Homo sapiens: one gene and its partners. The protein of the gene in region 1 purifies or fractionates together with the protein of each later gene. This does not show direct contact. Each region holds a gene or a part of one and is shown on either strand. Other genes may lie near its edges.

The links.
Region 2: the proteins of STARD13 (region 1) and TESK2 purify together in Homo sapiens (affinity purification with mass spectrometry, with the first as the bait; one large-scale study listed by BioGRID). This does not show direct contact.
Region 3: the proteins of STARD13 (region 1) and DCLK1 purify together in Homo sapiens (affinity purification with mass spectrometry, with the first as the bait; one large-scale study listed by BioGRID). This does not show direct contact.
Region 4: the proteins of STARD13 (region 1) and HHIPL1 purify together in Homo sapiens (co-immunoprecipitation; one large-scale study listed by IntAct). This does not show direct contact.
Region 5: the proteins of STARD13 (region 1) and PPP2R2C purify together in Homo sapiens (co-immunoprecipitation; one large-scale study listed by IntAct). This does not show direct contact.

The regions. Positions count from the first base shown.
Region 1 is NC_000013.11:33,111,256-33,114,774, reverse strand, and holds part of STARD13 (stAR-related lipid transfer protein 13), read left to right. Parts: intron 1-1,843; coding exon 1,844-2,054; intron 2,055-2,882; coding exon 2,883-2,997; intron 2,998-3,519. UniProt on the Homo sapiens protein: GTPase-activating protein for RhoA, and perhaps for Cdc42. May be involved in regulation of cytoskeletal reorganization, cell proliferation and cell motility. Acts a tumor suppressor in hepatocellular carcinoma cells.
Region 2 is NC_000001.11:45,453,163-45,456,681, forward strand, and holds part of TESK2 (dual specificity testis-specific protein kinase 2), read right to left. Parts: intron 1-3,519. UniProt on the Homo sapiens protein: Dual specificity protein kinase activity catalyzing autophosphorylation and phosphorylation of exogenous substrates on both serine/threonine and tyrosine residues. Phosphorylates cofilin at 'Ser-3'. May play an important role in spermatogenesis.
Region 3 is NC_000013.11:35,809,877-35,813,395, forward strand, and holds part of DCLK1 (serine/threonine-protein kinase DCLK1), read right to left. Parts: intron 1,093-3,519; coding exon 959-1,092; intron 1-958.
Region 4 is NC_000014.9:99,658,620-99,662,138, reverse strand, and holds part of HHIPL1 (HHIP-like protein 1 isoform a precursor), read right to left. Parts: intron 2,712-3,519; coding exon 2,383-2,711; intron 1,860-2,382; coding exon 1,733-1,859; intron 1-1,732.
Region 5 is NC_000004.12:6,326,109-6,329,627, reverse strand, and holds part of PPP2R2C (protein phosphatase 2, regulatory subunit B, gamma), read left to right. Parts: intron 1-274; coding exon 275-366; intron 367-3,519. UniProt on the Homo sapiens protein: The B regulatory subunit might modulate substrate selectivity and catalytic activity, and might also direct the localization of the catalytic enzyme to a particular subcellular compartment.

The DNA of each region.
Region 1 (3,519 bases):
CTGAGACAACATATAGAGATGACAGGCGACTCTTCAAAAATGATGGCTGGGAAAAAATGTTGGCATGGAAAAGAAGCTTAGTAATCTAAAGTTAAACAATGTATACACACTGGACACCTTACCTAGAGCAGCATATTTAAAACAATTCTGCAGCTCAAGCAAAACTTGTTACACCTCTCACAAGCTTCAGATCATTAGTACCATCTGTTTCTCCTCCACCCTAAGCGAGAGTAAGAAAATGGGTTCACTCTAATTTTAACAAAACGGCTCTTCTCTGTAAACCCCAGGTATATCTTGTGCCAGTACACAATGGACATGGTGGGAGTGGAGACGGGTTTCAGACCACTGAAGGCATGCTCAGGCTTTTCTAGGAACTTGGATTTGCTAATCAGGGCCATAGTGTGGTCAGCCCTGGCATGTGACGTCATGCCTCCTGCATGAGACTGCAGGCGAATCCAGCATCGATAGCCCCCCAGGACCACAAAGCCTGGGGCCAGCCAGGACCCCCTCAGAAGGTCACACCTCAGCCCTTCTGGAACAGCCAGCTCTGAGTTTGTTTTTATCATGCACTCCTGCCAGTAGCAAATATCTGAATGTGTATTTATGTTTAGTAATATAAATATACTGGATGTACTCTAATGTACTATGCACATTATAAAGCACACCCAATCAGTATTTTTAATGGGTAAGAGAAAAGATAAACACACGTGGGAGTGCTAATGATTTCTTCTCACACCTCAAGAGACTGTCAGGAGCACACCTCCCCACCCCTTGAGAATTCAGACACCCTCGTGTGGAGGCCCCTGCTCCAGAACATGGCACTTTAAGAAAGACAACAGTGTTGACAGAAGCAAGCTCCTGACGGTGTCTTTCGCAGTGAGAGGACTAAAGTGATCATGAAATAAACACAGCCACAGGTGGGAGCAGCAAAAGGCAGCACCTATCACTCATTTGGTGTGATTTCCATTTAGTTCCCCTCATATTGTTGGAACCAATTCCCTGGTAAGCCTGCATAACCAGTACCCACTACCACAAGGACCACCCTCAAGGGTAATGGCACTGAGAAGGGCCAGACATCCCCCATAACCTTAGGCTGCCTGGTTCTTCTTCTCCAAGCACAGCCTCCATTTCCATAAACCCCAAGATTATGGAACAGGTGACGCTGGGTCTCCACATGAAGTCAATAGCAGGCATCCTGCAAAGCAAGTCCTGGGAGATTTGTAGGAAAAAGGAAGATGTACAGGCTTCCCCTCGAGAAGCTGGCCCTCTAGGAATGAGGTCAGAGGTCCCACCAGCTCAACACCACTCCCGGTGAATTGTGCAGCACTGGCATCATGGCCTGGCTGGCAGGGGTGGAGAAACGCAAGGCGAGGCTACTGTTCCCTAACCCAGTGGTTTTCAAACCATGTCCCACGGAGCCTTGGGCATCCTGAGAGTGGCTTCCCAAGCTGTCTGTCAGGGAGGATGGGCAAGAGGGATGCCAGGTTGACAGAGTCCTAATCACCAACTTCACCCAGAAGCCTTCTGAAAGCAGGTGAGTGGGTTGATTGCTCAGAATACAGAAAACCAGGATGGTGGTGCCCCTTTCTAAACCCTGCTTGGCCATCGAGAGCGTGGGATCCAAAGTTCAATTGCAAGGGTTGGGACTCAGCTCTGCCTCCCATGAGCTGCGAGGCCTCAGCAATTACTGACTTCTTTGTGCCTTTCCTGCTGTTCTGGTTGTTTTTGTTGATGATGACTCTGGGTGCGTGTTCACACGAGGAATGTGGAGCTTACACAGTGCTTCCCAGCTGGCTCTTTCTATGTCTGCTCCTCCAATGACCTGGCATCCACTTTTCCTCAGATGTCTCCAAAGAGCAGCGGCTGCAGGCCGTGCAGGCTGCCATCCTGCTACTGGCCGATGAGAACAGGGAGGTCCTGCAGACGCTCTTGTGTTTCCTGAACGACGTCGTCAACTTGGTGGAAGAGAATCAGATGACGCCCATGAACCTGGCAGTGTGTCTGGCCCCCTCCCTCTTTCATCTTAATTTATTGAAGAAAGAAAGCTCTCCACGGTGGGTTTTTTTTCTCAGTAACAACAGTAATCCCAAAGCAGGCATTCCCACAGTTCATAAGACTGGATGGATGGATGGATGGATAGATAGATACGAATGGATATATTGGTAGACAGATTATAGATAGATAGGTAGGTAGATAGATCAACGATAGGTAGATGATAGATTGATAGATAGTTGATACATAGATGATAGATGACAGCTAAATAGATAGATGATAAATAGATGGTAGATGATAAAGAGAGATAAATAGATGATTGATAGGTAGATAATAGAGATAGATAATAGATTATAGATAGATAAAATGTGTCTCATGCTACATTTCAACTTCAGGATTTGTCAACACTCTTTTCATAATCAGAAAATCTTGTGAGACACCCTAATTCACGGGGCTCAGATTCATAGAATTATTGAGCTAGCATTGAAGAATGCCAGCTGTGATCCAGAAAGCTTGAGTTTTATGTTGTCTGTGTGAGTGAGGAGGAAAACATACACAAAGTAGTATTTTACAATTTTTAAAAGGCTATATTTAAGACCAAAGCACAGGAGCTTGCAGTTAAGGGGTTTCAAACTTTGGAAAAACAGATTAATTTTGTCCCCTGCTGTTCTTCCTGCCCTTTAGTTTTCCAAGATTTTTCCTTGTGAACTGTCAGACTGTTAGCCTGATTCAGATATCTAAGATATGTGATCATTGTTTTTATTTGGAAACGCAAAAGCCTGGGATCTGGATAGCATCTGGGTATAAACAGAAAACAAAAGGGATGAGTTTGGTATTGTGACAAGCTCGTTGGTGTGGGATCTGCTTAGCACACTCACGTTCAATTACAGAGTCATACAGAAGAAATATGCCACTGGGAAGCCAGATCAAAAGGACCTCAACGAGAATCTGGCAGCAGCTCAGGGGCTAGCGCACATGATCATGGAATGCGACAGACTTTTTGAGGTGAGCAAAAGGCTCGAACCTCCGCCTCCCTAGTAGCTCTTGGAACTAGATAAGACGCTTGGGATTGTTGCTACATTTATGGTTTCTATCTGTTTGTTCCTGATTTTATGACAATAGTATATGTTATAGCTCTGGTGTTTGCTTCCAAGAAAGCTGAGGAGCTAGCTATACAATTGAGGCTTTGATAAAGACACTTGGGATTACCATACTGATGGTTTTTATGCAAACAGTGCATCACCTGCCATTATCAGGTTCAAGGCCAGTCAGCCAATTATGTTCTATTTGATTTTACCTTGGAGCTTGATTAGGTTAAACATCTGTGTGAGTGTGTGTATGATACTGAGGAATCTTTGTTGCTAAGAACCAATGACAGCTTATGAATACAGCCACAGATATGTAAAAGAAGTAAGTGAACCAGACTTGTGGCATACTTTTGTGATAGAATTGGCATTTGTCAATGGGAAAAGTGTGCTAAAAAAGTAAAGCTATTCCCAAGTCATGTTTGATGTTTCCCTTCACAAG
Region 2 (3,519 bases), on another chromosome or scaffold:
GTGAAACCACAACTCTACAAAAAAAAATACAAAAATTAGCCAGGTATGATGCTGTGTGTCTGTAGTCCCAGCTACTCGGGAGGCTGAAGTGGGAGGATCACTTGAGTCTGGGAGGTCAAGGCTGCAGTGAGATAGCACCACTGTACTCCAGCCTAGGTAACAGAATGAGACCCTGTCTCAAAAAAAAAAAAAAAAAAAAAAGAGAGAGAGAGAGATAAACCCTCTCTAACATGGTTAATTGACTGTGACATGAAGGGTGCCAAAACCATTCAATGGGGAAAGGACAGTCTTTTCAACAAATGGTGCTTGTAAAATTTGGTATCCTCAAGCAAAAGAATGAAATTGGACCCTTACTTTATACGATATTGAAAAATTAACTTAAAATGATCAATAACCTAAATGTAAGAGCTAAAACTATAAAACTCTTAGAAGAAAACATTGTGGAAAATCTTCATGATATTGGATTTGGTGATGATTCCTTGGATTGACACAAAAAGCAAAAGGTAACAAAAGAAAAAATTAATTTGACTTAATCAGAATTTAAAATTTCTGTGCAAAAAAGGACACCATCATGGGAGTGAAAAGACAAACTACAAATTGTGAGAAAATATTTGCAAATCATATATCTGGTAAGGGATAAATATTCCCTATATATAAAATATATAAATACAATGCAATTCAAAAATGAGCAAAGGATTCAAATACACATTTCTCCAAGAAGATATACAAAAAAGGTCAACAAGTACATGAAAAGATGCTCAATATCACTAGTTGTTTAGAAAAATGCAAATCAAAACCACAATGAGATACCACTTTTCACACCAAATAGGATGATTACCATGAAAAAGAAAAATAAGTGTCAGTGAGCACATGGAGAAACTGGAACCCTTACATATTGCTGATAGAACTGTAAAATGGCACAACCACTACGGAAAACAGTCTGGTGGGTCCTCAAAAAGTTAAACATAGATTGACTAAGTGAAATAAGGCAGTCAAAAAAAGACAAATACTGTATGTTTTCACTTACATAAGATATCTAGGGTAGTCAAACTCTTAGAAATAAAGTAGGATAGTGGTTGCCAGGGGTTGGGGGGAATGGAGAAATGAGGAGTTGTTTAATGGGTACAGAGTTTCAGTTTTGCAAAATGAAAAAGTTCTGGAGTTTGGAGGCACAACCATGTGTACATACTTAACAGTTGTGTTAAGTATGTACTTAACATAATTAAATACTGTTAAGATAGTAAGAAAAAGATTTATTTTTTATTTTTTTATTATTTTATTTTATTTTATTTTTCCCCCAGAGACAGAGTTTCGTCATGTTGCCCAGGCTGGTCTCAAACTCCTGGGCTCAGGCAATTCTCCCGTCTTGGCCTCTCAAAGTGCTGGGATTACAGGCGTCAACCACAATGCCCAGCCAAAATGGTAAATTTTGTATGTATTTTACCATAATCTTTTCTTAAACATAGAATTACTCATATGACTCAGCAATTCTATTTACAGCTAAATACCCAAAAGAATTGCAAGCAAAGAACCAAATAGATACCTGTATATCAATATCCATAGCAGCATTAGTCACAATAGCCAAAAGGTGGAAACAGCCCCACCATCGACAGATAAAATATGACATATATACACAATGCAATATTAGCCATAAAAAGGAATGAAATTCTAATATATGCTACAACATGAATAACCCTGAAAACACTATGCTAAGTGAATTAACTCTAACACAAATGGATAAATATTATATTAACCCACTTATATAAGGTACCTAGAATAAGCAAATTCATAAAAACAGCAAGTAGAAGATATTAGTGGGTGGGAGTGAAACTGCCCCCACAGGGTTCACAAGAAGTGCATGCCAGGTTCTGGACAGAAATATAGTTATAATTAAGCATTAATCAGGCCGCACTTTGGCCCACTTCCTGGTTGCTAAAAGTCATATAGCACTAGATACTGACTATTTGCATTCCTATTGTTCCTACAGAATAGGATTTCTGACATTAGGGTCATAAAACTTTAAGATTTTATTTCTATCCCCATCTTTCCTATAACAGGATCTCTGACATTATAATCATAAGGCTTTTGTTTAAGGATTGCTTAATATGTTTTTCAGACCCCTGAATTCCAGCAACCAGTTTGAAGTCCCCCACAGAGGAACGGGATCTGCAAGAGAATACAGCTTCTTCATCTCCCTGTCCCATGACTTCATCCTGTACTCTTTAACAAATAAACAATTGCCACACTTCGGCCCACTTCAAAACCCTTAAAAAACCTTAGCCCCCATCTCTTACGGGAGATGAATTTGAGGTTTTCCTCCATCTCCTCATTTGGCGGCCCTATGATTAGACCTTTCTCTGCTGCAACCTGGAGTCTCAGCTTATTGACTTGCTGTGTGCATTGGGCAATGAACCCATTTACAGTTACAGAAGGGAGAATTAGTGAGTTAACGTTTCATGGGTACAGAGATTCTGTTTAGGTGATGAGAAAGTTCTGGAAAAGGATAATGGAGATGGTTGTACAACATTGTAAATGTAATTAATGACACTGAACTGTACACTTAAAAAATGGCTAAGATGGTAAATTTATGTTATATATATTTTACTGCAATAAAAAGTATTTTAGAGAAAGACACATTAGAAAGAAAGAAGCTGGAAATGGTACATAGAGACAACTCTATGGAGTTGTTTTGGTCCAAAAAAAAACAAGACATGGGAAAGTATACCTATTAATAAAAGAAACAATAGGGGCTGGGTGTGGTGGCTCTTACCTGTAATCCCAACACTTTGGGAGGCCGAGGCAGGCTGATCACTTGAGCCCAGGAGTTCAAGAACAGCCTGGGCAACAAGGTGAAACCCCAACTCTCCAAAAAATACAAAAATTAGCTGGGCATGGTGTCATGCACCTGTAGTCCCAGTTACTCTGGAGGCTGAGGTGGGGGGATCATCTGAGTCCAGGGAGGTCAAGACTGCAGTAAGCCATGATCACACCACACTGCACTCTAGCCTGGGTGACAGAGCGAAACCCTGTCTCAAAAAATAAAATAAAATAAAATAAAATAATAGAATAAAATAGGTTGGGCGCGGTGGCTCATGCCTATAATCCCAGCACTTTGGGAGGCTGAGGTAGGTGGATCACTTGAGGTCAGGAGTTCAAGACCAGCCTGGCCGAAATGGTGAAACTCTGTCTCTACTAAAAATACAAAAATTAGCCAGGTGTGGTGGCAGGCGCCTGTAATCCCAGCTACTAGGGAGGCTGAGGCAGGAGAATTGCTTGAACCCGGGAAGCAGAGGTTGCAGTGAGCCAAGATTATGCCACTGCACCCCAGCCTGGGCAACAGAGTGAGACTCCATCTCAAAAAAAATAAAAATAAAATAAAATAAAGGGGAAATAACAGAGCCAAAATATTTGGGTTTTTTTTTTCCTTAAAAGAATTTTTTTAACATGTTAATGGTAATACTTAGTAGTGAAAATACAATGTAGAAAAGAGAGGGGAGAATTTCTTAGGCAATGCCTATT
Region 3 (3,519 bases), 2.7 Mb from region 1:
GTACAAGCAAAAAACAAAACAAAACAAAACCTCGAAAAACTATCTCCAACTGGTCACAGGGGAGAGTGCCACCTAGATTCCCAGCTGTGGACTGAAACTGCTAATGAGAAGAAAAAGTAGGGCTGCCTCCCCTCAGTGCCCCACCCTGTTATTCCTTCTGCTTAAGGATGGCACCTCAGAGCCTGCCTATGGCCCTTGGTAAGAAATAGGGCTTCTTACCAAAGGAGTCTTTGACTCAGGCTGACCTGAGTTCAAATCCTGACTCAACCACTAAAACTAATCATGAGCTTGCATGGTATCTAACCCATTAGAGTTTCAATTTATTGAAGTGCAAAATGGGAATCAAACCATCGACTGGAAGAGTAAGAAGTAAAGGAGTTTCAGGCCTAGCATATTGTGGGGTCTTAGTAAGGAATAGGCTACCCCACCCTTCTCCCCACATTCATCTGATTCTGCACACAGAAACCAGGAAATTCCCAATGGTCCCTGATGCCTAAGGGTGTTTGTACTCCACGGAAAATCAATGGATCCCCAAGAGGTCCCAAATGGGACCTGGACTGGAGGATAAGGGCAGCAGAGAGAAATAACTGCAGGAGACTGTAATCACCGCACACGGCAGTGTCTGTTTCTTTTATCTCCAAATGAGAGTTAATTACCATCGCTGTGTGTTTCTGTTAGTCTGAACATTTTTTACTCTGGGGTTAATAACTTCTGTTCTACCTTTAACAAAGACCAAATGGAAGCCTTAAGATTGCAGTAATTGACAAAACAGATTGGGAAAACAGAGAAAATGGCTCCCACTGTAAATGTTAAAGAATAAAATACAATTTTAAAAAGAGTGGAAGAAACCTGATAGCTAATTATGTCTGGATAGGGCACAGCAGTACTATTTTTCCTATTCTCGAAGCGGGCTAGTTCTTTTGCAAGCATAGCACTTAAACATAAGAGAAGCATTTACCCAGTCTCTGCAATGATTTCTGGAGCCACGTATGTTGGGGTGCCACAGACTGTGTACAGGGGGCCGTCTACAATGGTGGCCAGTCCAAAGTCACCCAGCTTCAGTGATTTGCTGCCATCTTGGTGCTCATACACCTAAAACAAAGGTAAAAATCACAATTGTCTGAAAACCAAGAGCTCAAAAGCCCTTTCTTGAAGAAATGAGGAACACTGTGTTTAAATTTAATGTATAGGAGGTAAAAAATAAATTAGGCAATTATGCAAGAATGGATATACATACAAAATAGCTTACTTCCTTTAGATTACTGCAAAACTGGAATCATGGTGAACACCTAACAAATGGAAATTGATTAAATAAATTATAGTACATTCATACAACGAGAGGTTACATGACCTTAAAATGGCGATACAGGTTTATAGTTATTGAATTATGTTTGGGAAATGAGCAGAGCAATTTTCAGATTGGTTTTTATAAAATGTCCATTAAAGAAAAAAAGTACATACAAAAAAAAAAGAAAAAGTCTGAAAGAACACAGTGCCGATGTATCTGTCTCTTGGTGGTAGGATTACAGGTTTTCTTAATCCTTTTGTTTATCTGTCTTTGATGTTGTCTATAATTAAAACTGATTTGCATAATAAAATGAAGTATAGAAAGTCCCTAGTGCAGTGTCTCCGATTTATGAAAATAATCTCTTTGTTTCAATATATTAAGAAAACTTGCCGGGAGCTGTGGCTCACGCCTGTAATCCCAGCACTTTGGGAGGCCAAGGCAGGTGGATCACCTGAGGTCAGGGGTTCAAGACCAGCCTGGCCAATATGGTGAAACCCTGTCTCTACTAAAAATACAAAAAGTAGCTGGGCGTGGTGGCGGGCACCTGTAATCTCAGCTACTCAGGAGGCTGAGGCAAGAGAATCACTTGAACCCGGGAGGTGGAGGTTGCAGTGAGCTGAGATCAAGCCATTGCACTCCAGCCTGGGCAACAAGAGCGAAAATCTGTCTGAAAAAAAAAAAGAAAGAAACTTTAAAAATGCAATTCTTTAGTAACTAAATACAAAAAAACTATACTTATAGTAAAATACTTTATTTTCAGTGCCTCGTATTTTCAACATGATCTATTTACATTTCTTAATAATTGAAAGAGATATTAACATTTCATTTCACCTGTGGCAATTTGGAAAGATTTATCAGGTGCAGAGTCAGCATCCTGTCCAGGTTTCCCTTATTAAGGCAGTAAAAATCTTCTCTCTTTCACCCAACAAATCAAGAAAAGGATGCATGTGACTGTAGGCAAGTATTTATACTCCTTTAATTCCAGCCACGATCAAAACAAATGGAGCTGCTCTAAAAAGTATCCCAAATAACTTATTTTATTTCAAAGAAAAGATGAAAGGGCGTTCAGAATCCTAATTGAGTCCCCTCTGTTGGAATGAATAAGATTAAGAAAAGAAAACCACAGTAAAAGGCTAGTAATTCCAGCAAGGGCAATCTTCACGAATGCCTCAAGGAAGCAGCTAAGTTTTCCATGTACATCAAAATACTTGATCCAGCAAGCCGAGGCTTGCATATTCTCCTGTTCTCACTCTGTGATCATCTGTTACTTGCTGCAGTAGTTTGAATCTTTTGCACAGCAAGGCACATCTCCACACATCAGGGGCACCGCTACTGTTCACACGTCACGTCTGCCTTCCTTTGGAAAAAGTAGATTAACTTTGCGTTTCACTGCAACACAAAATGCAGATGTTTGGCCAGCTAAGCTGCAATATCAGCAATGATCACCTGGATCCAACAGTTTTGGCAGAAGCAGGCAGTCAGATCCACCTATCTGAAAGACTGCATCTTTTCTGAGCAGAAAATATTCTTTTACGTTTTCTCCACACTCATAGCATGGAGTCTTATTCCCAGGAGCTGTTGATCAGGATCAAGTTTGGGCTGCCCTCTGGCAGGTATCCGAAGATTTGTGAGGTCACCTGTGATTGGGTTGTTAGGGCAAAAACAGCCATATGTCCCTCACAGATGTGGCTTTGCCCAGCTGTCATCTGGGACGGACATTTTCTTCCTAACTTAATGAAGCAGCTGTCCAGCCTTGGTCACTTAGAGTTAAGTTAAAAACTTTGAGGCATCACAGCTGCAAAACACAACATCGGCCCCAGCCTAACTGTTCTTAGGCAAAAGAAAACCCTAAGTTGTAGTCTTACCACGTCAGCCATTCTGGTCATCCAAATGACAAGCAAATGTTTTTCATGAAAAGAAATCTGAGATGGAAACATCTAGTAGATGGTCTCGTTGATTTCCGAGGCAGAGCAGAATTGTTTACTTCCTTAATTCCATTTTGTTAACAATAACCTTTCTAAAATGCAAAATAATCTCCTGCTTTGATGTTCTGCTAGGTCCAAACATTCATTCTGTGTGCTTTGTGAGGTGATGCAGATTGTAATTTATTCAACCCACTTGATGCAGGAATTTTGTAGCTTTTTTCTTAAACACAGTATCTACACCACCTAACTGTACTCAAAAGTTTGACAAAAGCAGATGTTGGTGGATTCAGTCATAAGTCCCATTTT
Region 4 (3,519 bases), on another chromosome or scaffold:
GTTCTTGCCTGACCCAGCAGAGCGGCTGGGAAAATACTGGCAAAATTAGTTGAATTTCTGTGGTCAGGAGACTTGGGCTCTCCTGGGAAGGACAGAAGGGAGAAAGGAGAATCAGGGGTAAAAACAGAGGCTTCATCTGTACCCATTTTCCAGATGGGAAAGCTGGGTCCCCGGGGAAGGGGCGGATCTGGGAGAGGAATCCAACTTCCAGGGGCCCAGGTCAGGTATCTCTCTCAGCTCCAGGCTGCAGGCTGGACACAAAATCAGAATTCTCCCACTAGCTTCAGGCATCTTCATGTCTTTATTCCCTCTCCTTAGGAACCCTATTCGGCTGCTGCCAGAGGAGGTTGCATGGAAATAAGTAAGAAACACCAGGCTGGGCACCGTACCTTCAGCCTGTAATCCCAGCACTTTGGGAGGCCAAAGCAGGAGGATTGCTTGAGTCCAGTTCAAGATTAGCTTGGGCAATGGAGCAAAACCCCATCTCTACAAAAAATGCAAAAATTAGCCAAGCGTGGTGGCACATGCCTATAATCTCAACTATTCAGGAGGCTGAGGTGGGAGGATTGCTTGAGCCTGGGAGGTGGAGGCTGCAGTGAGCTGAGACTGTGCCACTGCATTCCAGCCTGGGTGACAAAATGAGACCCTGTCTCAAAAAAAAAAAATCACCATATATTAAGCATGTACTCCTTCCTTCCTTCCTTCCTTCCTTCCTTCTTTTCTCTCTCTCTCTCTTTCTTTCTCTCTCTTTCTTTCTTTCCACACTAGATTCTAAGTGATATTTATGTATTAACTGATTCAGTCCTTAAAACCACCCTAGGGGCAAGTACTATGATCATCTCCATTTTGCAGATGAGGTAGCTGAAGATAAGGAAAGGTGAAGTAACTGGCTCAAGGTCACCTGGCCAGTAACTGAGCCAGAGTTCAGACCAAGCCGTCTCAGCCTGCCCTTGGGCCTCTTTAGTCCTCAGCTTTCTCCTCTGTAAATGGGACAAGGTGGTCACGAGGCTCCATAAGCACCCTTGGGGACAGAGCCTGACTCGAAGGAGGGTTGTGATGTAGGTTTCCCTCCCCCATCAAACCTATTTGGGATGTGATTCATCCTCCTCCCACAGCAGGGTCTCAGTGGGTGGTACTGCTGCCCTAGAGCACGGGGGCAGGGCAGCAAGGCTCCAAGGCCACAAGAGCCCCACCTCCTCCTCTCCCCATTAGGAGGCCCATGGGCAGCCACTGTTCTCTCGGGTCTTAGTTTCTCAACCTTTGCAAGCTCCCTGCAGTCCTGGCTGGGGTGGGGTGGGGCAGGGCTCCAGGCCCCCATCAGCTGTTGCAGTGACAAGCTGTGGCTTCCCCAGGAGCAGGGTGGCCCTGAGTGTCCAGGAAATTGTTCATATTCTGCCCTCCTGCCCATCAGAACTGCTGTCAGGCCCAGAGCCCATGGTTCTCAGGAGGGAGAGGAAGACCACGGGACCCGCACTTAAGCAAGCCTCCAGTCTTTAATGCCATGAGTTGTGTGTCTATCATAGAGGTACTGAGGCCTGCAGCAAAGGCTCACCATACATCTCAGGAGAAAAGCGGGTGGATGCGGGTGTCCGGCCCACACCTAGGGGCCCCTGTCAGAGCAGCGAGGCACATGTGCAGGAACGGGCGCACACATACACTCCCCTTTACCAAGGAGCCAGTCCCAAGGAGCCAGTGGCAGCAGCCAGGGGCGCGAGGGCACTAGGTCACTTACCCGCTCATGAAATCCCCAAAAATGTAGAGGCCGTTCAGGTTGGGGTACTCGCAGCCCCGGTACACGTAGCCCCCTGTGACCGACTTGCCAACCGTGTGCGGGTAGGCGAAAATCGGCAGCAAGTCATCTGCGGGGTGGGAGGGAGAGAAGCTTCGGTGAGCCAGCGGCGGGAAGGTTCATCAGCCAGGAGAATTCCGGAGGGATTCCGCGGGGGTGGGGCGGCCACGGAGGGAGGGGCGTGCCCACAGCAGGGCTGGCGTGCCCACAGCAGGGCTGGCGTGGTGGAAAGCGTGTCTGCAGGGGTGCCAGGTGGGGATGGAGCGAGGAAGAACTCAAGAGCGCTGCTGGGAGGCCTCCAAGGCGCAGGGAGGCTCCGGGTGGAGGCGGGGGCAGTCACCGAAGGAGGCTTTGGCTCACAGCCCGTGGAGTTGGGGTGGGGGCAGATCCAGGGTCAGGGGGTGCCTGGGGTGCGGGTGGTCCCCGAGTGAGGCCCTGCCGCACAGCCCATAGAGTGGGGCCGAGGACAGACTCAGGGTCAGGGATCTCCGGGGGGGGGGGGGTGCGGTCTCCGAGGGAGGCCCTGCGGCACAGCAGGTGGGGTGGGGTGGGGGCGGATTCGGGGCCGGGGTCCCCGGGGCGCGGGCACTCACTGAGAGAGGTGTTGGCGCACAGGCTGCGGTCGTAGCACTCGAACCCTTCGCGCGCGCGCCAGCCATAGTTGCCGCCGCGCTCCACCACGTCCACCTCCTCGAACTTGTTCTGGCCCACGTCGCCGCAGAAGAGGCGCCCGCGGCCAGTGCCCGAGGAGGGGTCGCCACGGTCGAAGGAGCAGCGCCACATGTTGCGCACGCCCAGGGCGTAGACCTCGGGCTGCGCCGCGGGGTCGCCCACGAACGGGTTGTCGGGCGGGATGCCGTAGGGCAGGCCGCGCTCCTTACGGTCCACGTCGATGCGCAGCACCTTGCCCAGCAGCGCCGACCTGCGGGCGGGGTGGGAGAGGGCGCGGCTCGGGGTCGCCCTGAGCCAGGGCTCACGGGCTCCGCGGGGCAGGTGCTGGGGCGCCGGCTGACCGCTGAGCCAGGTGCAGGGTGAGCCTAGGCTGTGGGGCCAGAGACCCTGGGATGCTGTCCGCCTTAACTACTTACAGCCGGGTAACCATTCATTCACTCAACATGCATCCCCCACCTTCCTGTGCGCCAGGCCTGTCCCATGCGTTGGACACAACACATCATCTATTTCGTCTTGTCCTCACAACAGTCGTTTAGGTAGGTGTGTCCTAGTATGATCCCCACTTTACAGATGTGGCAGCGGAGCTCAGAAAGCTCAAATAACATCGCCCAGTTGCCGCACCGCTGGGATCCAGCCCAGACAGCCTGGGCCCAGAAACTCAAGCTCTTTACCACACACTCTGTGGAATCTTGGTGTCCTCAACTGTAATAGTAGAGTGGTCCCGCTCAGACCATTCAGTCCTCCCGGACTGTGGTATAGGGTGAAAATTCCACTAGAAAAAATGACTTGTATTTACAGTTTTCTTCCAGTACTCGGCACTGTGACCAGCACATAGTAGGTGACCATTAAGTGCAGAGTCAGTGAATGAAGGATTGCAATCAAAGCCAAATGCACCAGCGTGCGGGTTGGTGGGGAGAGGGGGAGAGAGCAGAGGGGTGCAGCCCTAAGCTCCAAGCAGCTAAGGAGGATAGCTCATGACAAAAGTGACGCGTGATGGGAAAAATCTGTAATGTGCTTAAAGACAGTGCGGAGAACATGCCCTTCTCAGCGGTGATTTC
Region 5 (3,519 bases), on another chromosome or scaffold:
TGCCTGGTCGTGGGCCCCCCGATAAGATGAGCAGGGCTGTATTGGGCTGTGTCACGGTCGGGGTCAGCCGTGTGCCTGGTCATGGGCCTCCCGATGAGATGAGCAGGGCTGTGTCGGGCTGTGTCAGAGCATTCAGACCCTCGCTGAGATGAGCAGGTCTGCGCTGGGCCATGTCAGGGCATGCAGACCCTCGCTGCTCTTTGAGACCCTTCTTGTGGAAGGGCCAGGATGGTCGGGACGCCCCGTCCACTCACCTCATCCCTTATCCCACCAGGTCCATGACTACCTTCGGAGCAAGCTCTGTTCCCTGTACGAGAACGACTGCATTTTCGACAAGTTTGAATGTGCCTGGAACGGGAGCGACAGGTAAGCCCTGACCTCAGCCCGCACCTCACCTCACCGTAGGGAGGGTTTCTGCCCTGCAGGGGTCTGGGCTGGGATTCCGGTGACCCGCAGCATGGGGCTACTCAGCCTCAATGGGTCCAGGTGTCTGGGTGAAGCCCACGCTTTCCAGAGCAGGTCCAACTCTCAGCGCTCAGATTCAAGGGGCAGGACATGAAATTCTTCATCTTCTGTCACTGAACCTCACAGCCACGTTGGCGCCTGCCCTATGGGCAGTAGTGGGAACATGTTTAGTTAATTCAGGGTCCCCGGTGATGTGCTCCCCTCTCCCAGCTTGTCGGGGGCGAGGGCTATAGCCCAGCACCCGGTCACCATCATCCATCCACACCTGTATGTCCTGAGACAGCCCTGCACCCCTGTGGCTTTGACCATCGGTCTACTCACCCCTCCTCCCATCACCACTACTGTCTCCCTCTCTTCCTGGTGACACCCCACTCGGGCCCGCTGAGGCTCAGGGGCACCTTGGAGCTCCTACACCCTCCAGGGCTTGTCACAATCCACAAGTCCAGCCGTCTCTCAACCCCACCTGCCTGGAAAGTGGCGCCCCAGTGCCAGAAGTGAGTTCCTGTGTCTCCCTAGCCTGGGCTCAGCCCAGGGCGGGCATGGACAAGGGGGCTGTGGCAGGGGCTCCTGACCTGACCTCTACCCGTGGGTCCTTACCTCTGTGTCTCTTCTCTGGGATTCTTCCTCCATTCTGGAGGTGGGAAAATCCCTCTTCTGCCCTCCCAAATCACATCAGCTTTGTGCTCAGGGTCCTGCCAGGCGTAAGATTCTGAAATGGACAAGCCTACTCTCCATCTGTGAGTTTCGATCTCAGAAGCTGAGAGGTGGCCTCTCAGTGTCTCCTACAGCTGCTTCCTCAAGGACAGGATGCCTCTTTGTCCAGCCGCCCAGATTCAGAAGTGGGTCTCCAGATGATACACAGTGTGGAGATAAAGACTACACTGGCTGCTAGATCAGAATACCACCTGTCAGGAGCCCATGTACTGTCACCTCCTCCCCGCAGTCCTGTCCAGTGTGGTGGGCAAGGAGGGTGGAGTGAGAGCCAGCAGCCCTGACTTGGGCATCACCTGGTGGGGGGCTGTCCACCCTGTGGATGGCATCAGTCAACATGACAGGTCTGGGCTCTCCCAGACCTCTGAGGGTGGCTGGCACTGTGGTGGTCATGTGAGAGCTGCCGCACTATGACTCTCTGTGGCTCTGGGCATAGGGCTGGGACCATCAGGGTTGGTGTGTGGGATGAGGGGAGGGCTGGACATGGCAGAGACAGGACCAGGAGGGAGCCCCCTGGAAGCAGGGCTGGATCCAAGTGGGGGGCCAAGTCATTGTGTCCAGGGAAGGAGATTTCTGAGAGAGTTGCCAACATCCTGGAGCTCCCCCAGCCCGCAGGGGTCTCTCAGCAGAGCCCGAGCTCAGGCAAGGGGCTGGCATGGTGATCACAGGGGGCCACTAAAGGATGCTTAGAAAACCAGGATGGAGGCCCGACCCGGGGCTGGGCTGGCACAGCTGGGTCAGCAGGACACAGGACCTTCTCTCTAGGCCCTGCCCCCAGATAGATCCCAGACACCCCCAGCAGACAGGGCTCCTCCCATGCTGCTGAGCTGCATTTGGGGTTCCCTGGTGCAGTGGGTCCCAAGAGGGTCTATCCAAATCGGACGAGAGGGACCTGCAGCTGTAACAAGCTGATTCCAGCTTTTATGTGCGTTTTGCGGGGTAGGTCCCCGCTGGCTGCGACCCACTGCCCGTCCTTCCTTCAAGCTGCCACCAGGGGGCACCCGCGGCCAGGTGATGCCTGCTCCCAGGACTGGAGAAGCCGCCAAGCATCCCCAGGCTGACAGTGGTGTCTAGGCCTGGGCTCTCCTGTCCTGCCTCCCACCCGCCACTTCCTGCGTGCACTTTACACGCCAGCCACGCCCTGTCCTAGTGGTCCCCCACCCGCCTCACTGTCTCTCGCTCCACAGCTGGCTCTGCTCTGCCCGGCTGGAACCTCTGTCCTTGTTTGCCTCCCGCAATGGGTGGGGTGCCCTGGGGGGCTACTATGACTCAACCTGTTCTGAGCCCTTCACTGGGGACCTCAGGTGTGTCCAGTGGCTGTGGGTGTTTCTAGAAGGCATAGAGGTGTGCCACCTCCCAGTTCACTTTGAGCACTGTTCTGAGAACAACATGCCCCATGGTCAGGGGTCCCAAGATAAACAGACCCTGGGTCCTGCCTTCCAGGGCCTCAGAGGCTCAGGAGAGAAGCAAGGATTCCCCCCAGGTTCCCACATCCTTGCAGACCAAAGCAAACTCGAATCCTGGCAGGCTCCCAGTTGCTGCCCTCTTATTCCTGGTGACCCCCTCTGACAGTTGGTCCGGCCCGCAGAGCGCCGCTGCTGCCGCGTGGTGGCTGCCCGATGGCCCCTGCCGTGGGGCTTCCTAGCACCGGCAGAACGCAGATGGGCAGCGTGCTGTGGAGAGGCAGCAGCTCTCCTGCTGGACTCTCTCAGTCTCTGGTCCACATTCTACCCTCGCCACCGTGTGCTTGAGGAAGCCCCTAAGTCAGCTCGGCTGGAAAGTGGTTCTAGGAAACTGGCCTTCGTGGCCGCTTTGGGGATGAGACCATGTGTGATGCCTTCAGCAAGATCCCAGTTCGTATGCGCAGGGGTGCCGCAGTGATCCTGCGTGGACTATCCTATTGGCAGGCCTGCCCTTCCCCAGGTTACCTACCCGGAGGAATCCCGCAGGCCCTCCCACAACAGGCTTCAACGCCCCCTCCTCCATGAAGTTCTCCTTGATCTGTCCTGCCTGGGGGGAGAGATTTGTGCCAGCCGAGCGTGCTCGGGTGCGGGAGTCAAACACACCTACACTTGCTCTGAGGAGTCCTGGGCAAGGCTCCCCCAGGGGCCCATGCTGTATCCCTAGGGCTGTTTTTTTCTCTCCGGCCGTTTTCTTCTCTCCATGCTTCCCCATCTCCGCTCCTCCCTGCTTCTTCTTACACACTGGCCTCATCCTCTCCCTCTTCAGAGATGACCCCCAAATCATTCCCCTTTCCATTATCCTCAGCCAGCCAACCCCTCCCAGGGACTGTGTAAAACTCTCATGGAAGGATCTGATTGGCTCTGTGTGGGTCACTTGCCC